Regions from separate parts of the Homo sapiens genome. Here region 2 is linked to region 1. Evidence: fine-mapped expression QTL. A gene starts in region 1. The other region holds a variant in brackets. All regions are shown on one strand. Distances are between the middles of the regions. Region 1 holds the start of MNDA (myeloid cell nuclear differentiation antigen). Region 2 has its middle 21 kb from the start of OR6N2.

What was found.
Region 2: its variant is fine-mapped to the expression of MNDA in whole blood (TOPMed, PIP above 0.99).

What each region holds. Positions count from the first base shown.
Region 1 is chr1:158,829,802-158,832,726 of GRCh38, forward strand. MNDA (myeloid cell nuclear differentiation antigen) reads left to right here and starts at 1,550. Exons shown (of 7, transcript NM_002432.3): 1 at 1,550-1,756. It also overlaps a transcript of OR6N1 not described here.
Region 2 is chr1:158,800,317-158,803,241 of GRCh38, forward strand. It overlaps a transcript of OR6N1 not described here. Among named protein-coding and RNA genes, the nearest start is that of OR6N2, 21 kb to the left of the region's middle. The variant T/C (reference allele first, on the strand shown) is at 1,642.

The sequences.
Region 1 (2,925 bases):
ATTGGACTTAATGTTCCACATGGCTGGGGAAGCCTCACAATCATGGTGGAAGGCAAGGAGGAGCAAGTCACATCTTACGTAGATGGCAGCAGGCAAAGAGAGAGCTTGCTCAGGGCAACTCCCATTTTTTAAAAACTATTTTAAAACGATCAGATCTCATGAGACCCATTTACTATCATGAGAACAGCATGGGAAAGATCTGCCCCCATAATTCATTCATCTTCCACCAGGTCCCTTCCACAACACGTGGGAATTATGGGAGCTACAAGATGGGATTTGGGTGGGAACACAGAGCCAAACCATATCAGGGCAGAAAGCTGTCCTGAAACATGGTAACTCCTGTCGTGAGCTCTTTTGGTTCCCAAACACTGAAGTGGGGCACCTGATAAGGTTTCCTTGTGTTCCTCTTTACCCTTTACCTTAAGACCTGCTCGAAGCATCAGCATAAGAGAGAAACTGAAACAATGAACACCCACATGTGTTAGTGGCTGTCATTCTAGATCCTCTTGGTTTTTTCTGATTTACCCTGCTTTAGTGGGGTTTAGACAGTTTCCAAATCCAAACTTTAACTCTCTCTATGCTGCTGGTTTGGATTAAGACAATCAGCTTTATTCTTCTCTGTAGATGGCCTTGGATCATTTTCCCCTATTAGCTGTTTTGGGATCCTTTTCCAGTCATGACCACATTTTGCTTACAGATCAGCTAGTTGGTAACCACAGCACTGTCTGCTAACTGATACCATTCATTTGACAATTCAGAGTTATGATACTTTGTAGTGCACCCACTGTTCTTCACAGGAAAAAAAAATTGCAGTACAAAGGGTTTATCAGGCCCCCTATCATTCCAGAGTTTCAGTGCTGTTCCAGAATGTTCAAGGTTTCAGTCATGATATGAACCAACTATCCATAAATAATGCAAAAAGCATGAGTAATCATGAATTTAATAATCAAGGTAAGGCAGCTCAGTTATTATACTCAAGAGAGCAACTAGTATGAAACTCTTTCAAATTATTTGAATAAGGATTTACATATTCATAATGACTTTCTGCCTCTGTCAAGCTCCAGGTGTATCAGTTATTAATAACTGGGTGAATATGTAGGTACTATTTAAACAAAAACAATTTCACAGTAGACCCACCCCTATCCAAGAGATGAAGTCAAGTTCTGGTAGCAATAGACATCTCTACCAAGATCTCCTGCTCCTGCCACTCTGTGAACAGGAAAGGAGGGAGAAACTTTGGTGTTTTGCCTTTCCCAATTTATATTAAGATCCTTATTCAAGCGGCTACCGGTTTCTAATGACCTATATGTAAGTTAGCTTTATAAGAAAGTTCTGAGTTTGAAACTCCTTTCAGCAAGTATTTGTAAGTCAAAAAAGCGAAGAAGAGGCACCATTTACTGTCATTTCTCCTTGTGACTGAGATTACTTACTACAAAGAGGAACTGACCACTTTCTCTGACATCTGAAATAGAAAGCTACAAAGGCTGATAGGCGTGGCTTCAAAATTGTTTCATGATTACATAACTTCTTTCTAGTTAGGAATTAGGACAGTGTAAGAAGGCCATCTACAATCAAGATTGAGAGTGGCTCTAACAAGTGCCATTTTTCCTTGTTAGCTTTCATTTCTCAGCCCTTTACAAGATTAAAATAGTCTGCAGTTTAATCTCTCCAAAGCTTTACGGACAGTGATTCTGTCCTAAACAAGACAGTGACTCCAGGATTTCTGAAGACTATTGTGGAAGAAGCATCCATTAAGGTGAGATTTCTGGGAAGTTCTTTAGAGAAAGATCTAGGTATCTAGTTGGTAACCACACCATCTCAGTAGAGAATAATTGCCTGAGACCAGAAGTGTTGTTATCAATCATATTCAGAAAACTGAGAACTGAATGCTTTAACTGTCTAGGTAGCAAATGGATATCTTTTATTCTACCACAATTGGGGTATGAACCAAAAAAATGTATTTTGTCTACAGCAGGTTTTAAAAATTAATTCTTGGGTGTCTTTTGGCATAAATTGATATTTAGAGGAGATACTTGGTTTTCTTGGCTGGAGGATGACTTGGTGACTGGGTTTGGGCCTAAGTTAAAAGACAAGACAGTCAGATAAGAAAATTATTATGAAGTAATATTTAGTAAAAAATAAACCAGGATATAAATCTCTATTATATGATTTTATCTCTATTTTAAAAAGCATAGACATGTGCACACATTAATTTCTCAATTTTACAAGCATTTACTCAAAAATAATCTTTACATTTTCATGAATCAGTTTCATTTTATGCTTCATTTTACAACAAGTGTAAGAAGAAATAATTCTCTTTTTCAAATGGTCTATGCTTTACTCAGTCATAGATAACATTTTTTGTGGCAAGGTATAATGAAAAGACAGGGAGAATCAATTATATATTTCCTACTTTGGGATACATTTTGACTTTTTTATGGCTTTGTACATATGAATGTTTTCTAATTACTCCATGAGTACTTGAGAAGAGTTTATAAACGTTGGATTCCAAATTCTATTTAAGTAAGATAAAGTTTCTTAAGTAAGCTTGTTAATTATGTTTGAAAAATCTAAATCTAAATCTAAGCTATTTTTTACCTTGTTCTTTCAGTAACTGAGAGATGTGGTGAAATCTCCAACTCTAATAGTGATTTTGTTAATTTCTCATTGTAGTTCTTTTGATTTCTACCATATATTTTTACATAGAATATGTATATCTAAGTATATATGTTATGTGTGTGTTTAGAGAGAAGAAAAAACTTCTATATGCTACTTTATAAAGTAATAACAGATTATATTTATAATATAATTTAAATTATTATATCTTTTTCCAAGTTGCATACTTTACCATTATGTAGTGAAACTATGTACTGATACTTATTGACTTAAGCCTATTTTAAGCTACACTATTTTTCCTAAAAAGTC
Region 2 (2,925 bases), 29 kb before region 1:
TTTACCTAGGAAAGAAAAAAAAAATCAAGGATTTGATTTCTACTATTTTGCTGTTGTTGTTTTTCTCCACAACATTAATTTTCAAGGTTTGACAATATTAAAATTGGTTTGCCTTTATTTAGGATCCACCAAATGTCAGAAAAGAGAATATAGTCCGTATCTGAGCTGGATGCTCAGAGAAAATTTACCTGAGGGTATATTGCCATAGAAAAACCTCAAATTGGACAACTTATCCACATTTAATAGGTGGGGACCCCAGAACATTCTGTGATCTTAGTCAAATTTACTAAATTGAGAGGGAGATAATGCTGCTGTATGCTACTCCACACACATTGTTCTCTACACATATCTTTTCTCTTAAAATAAGCTAAAATAAATACAAAGTCATCCCTGCATTTGGAAAGAAAGCATTTCAACATCATTTTTCAAAAACAGGAAACCCAAAACTTACGCTATCACTAAAAAGAAATTTTAAAAGGTTGTCCAGAGAGTTTTTATTTCAAAAATAAGTTTTCTTTTTGTATCTTCAATAAGCTATGGCTATGTTATCCTCAGACAGGGAATCTCCTAGTAGGATCCTACAGTTCCACGCTTGGTCTTCAGAGAACCTTCAGAGAAGTAGCAACTGGGTGCCCAGTTAGCATTCTAAAGTCTAAGGCATGAGAAGAGATCACAATACACTTCTACACTTCCATGAGACTTTCTTTTGTTTTGCTCATTCACTTCTCACCAATCCATGCACTCCTTCCCACCACTTTTCATGACCTCCCATCATCACAAAAGTACATAGAACAAAATGAAAAAAAGTCTGTTTCTTGGTGTTAGTCAGTATGTTGCTGCACATACTGGTGTGTGTGTGTGTGTGTGTGTGTGTGTGGTCTGTCTGTGTGTGTATGTGAAGAAGAGAAAAAGGTGGGGGTGGCGGTGGGGAGAGAGAGAGTGGGTTGGCTCCTTAAAACAAAATTGTTAAATGCCGGGGTTTTTTTCCCACCCACCTTGCCAGAAAACAGGAGAGACAGAAAAGTATCCATCTAGTCCCTAAAGAAATGTCCCATCTGTCAAAGTCAGAACTGCAGGGTTACATGAAGAATCAATGAACAGACAAAGTACATTTTAAAGAAGGATTCCTAAGGGAGACATGCATCAGGAATTCTCAAAGGGAATGAGGAGAGAGAGGAATTGGTAAGCTAAGGCCCCTATATTGTTGGTCTAGAAGGGCTGTAGCGCAACAGAAAAAGCATTCTATTTCTAAATTGACTTTGTAAACTTGTTTTGCCACTAACTCAAAATGAACATTGGGCTTAACCATTTCTCCTTTCTTTACTTCAACTTCCCCTTCTCTATATAAATGTTGTATAAAGCCCCTCACCACCCTGGTAGTCTGTGGATCTCTAAAGCCATTGAAAAATGTTTCTAGGGTGGATATGGAGTTGGGTGGTCTATATCAATGTCCCTGGAGTTTTCTTTCCATATTCTAATAGTCCTTATCTGGGAAAGATCAAAGCCTTTACCTAGTTCTCTTTTTTAGATACTCTAATCTTTTCTGTACCACCCCTGCCCATTACCTGATGGTTTTGATGACATTAGAATTTACAACATCCTCCTCTGCATCTTTTCTACCCCAAGACACTCCCCTACTTA[T/C]ATTTCATGTTCCTGGAAATGCTGACCTCCCAGGGGCTCCTTGCTATATGTTCTCTGGAGTTGCTAAGTGTGTAAAGTTTTTTGTAAGTGCTCCTCTGGGGTAGGAAGTTGGACACAGAGAAGTAAAGCAGCCCTACTCTCTTTCAAATGGCTTTTCTGCAACCCTCACTGGCTCTAGAATCCAATCCCAGGGACACTGCCTCTTCTGGGACTCTAGAAGTTCTGCAAGTCCCTCATAGCACTTTTTTTTTTTTTTTTTTTTTTTTTTGAAACGGAGTCTTGCTCTGTCACCCAGGCTGGAGTGCAGTGGAGCGATCTCGGCTCACTGCAACCTCTGCCTTCCAGGTTCAAGCGATTCTCCTGCCTCAGCCTCCCAAGTAGCTGGGACAACAGGCATGTGCCACCACACCCAGCTAATTTTTTGTATTTTTTAGTAGAGACAGGGTTTCACCATTTTAGCCAAGATGGTCTCGCTCTCCTGACCTCGTGATCCACCCGCCTTGGCCTCCCCGTCATAGCTTTTCATGAGAAGAGACAATCCAACTTGAATACATGAAGAATCACATCTTTAGCACCCCAGAGGTGAGTTTCATCTTAAAAGCTTTTTTTGCAAGGAGATTTCTCATCCATCCCTACTAACCTCACCACATCACCATATTATCACAGCACAGGCACCACTATCACTTTTGCGCTTACCATCTCTACCTTTGTTACTCTCACCACTGTCCCTCCCTTTGCCATGTCAGCTATCTTTAGCCATTGTTCCAAATGATTGATGTTGAATACCTAATACACTTGTCTAAGTCTCCATCACCAGTATTATTACCATTACTTACATTATCACTACCATTATTATTACCCAGGCATCTTCATGAGACTAATCTACTTTTTCATTATTACTTTTACTTATATCCATATCCTCAATATGTTCATCAACATCCTAATCTTGACATCTGAACTCTTATCTCAGCTGTGTGTTCTCTGTGGGCATGTACTTAGATGGATATGGAGTCCAGATGAATAATGGAATTACAGCATTTATCTATCAGAAGTAAGGTATTTGAATCATTCATAGCCCCAAATGTACTTTTATTTTTCAGAATCAGGTGGAAAGAAAGCAGTTGCTATATTAAATTTAAGATACGGAGGTAACCATAAAAAGATTAACAAGTAAATCATATTAAACGGAAGAAAAATACTAAGTGTTCTGAGTTCAAATTGGAAAAGCTTTCCTGTAGGAGACGGAAAGTTTCTGAGCCAAAGGAAAGGAAGATATTTGTTTCT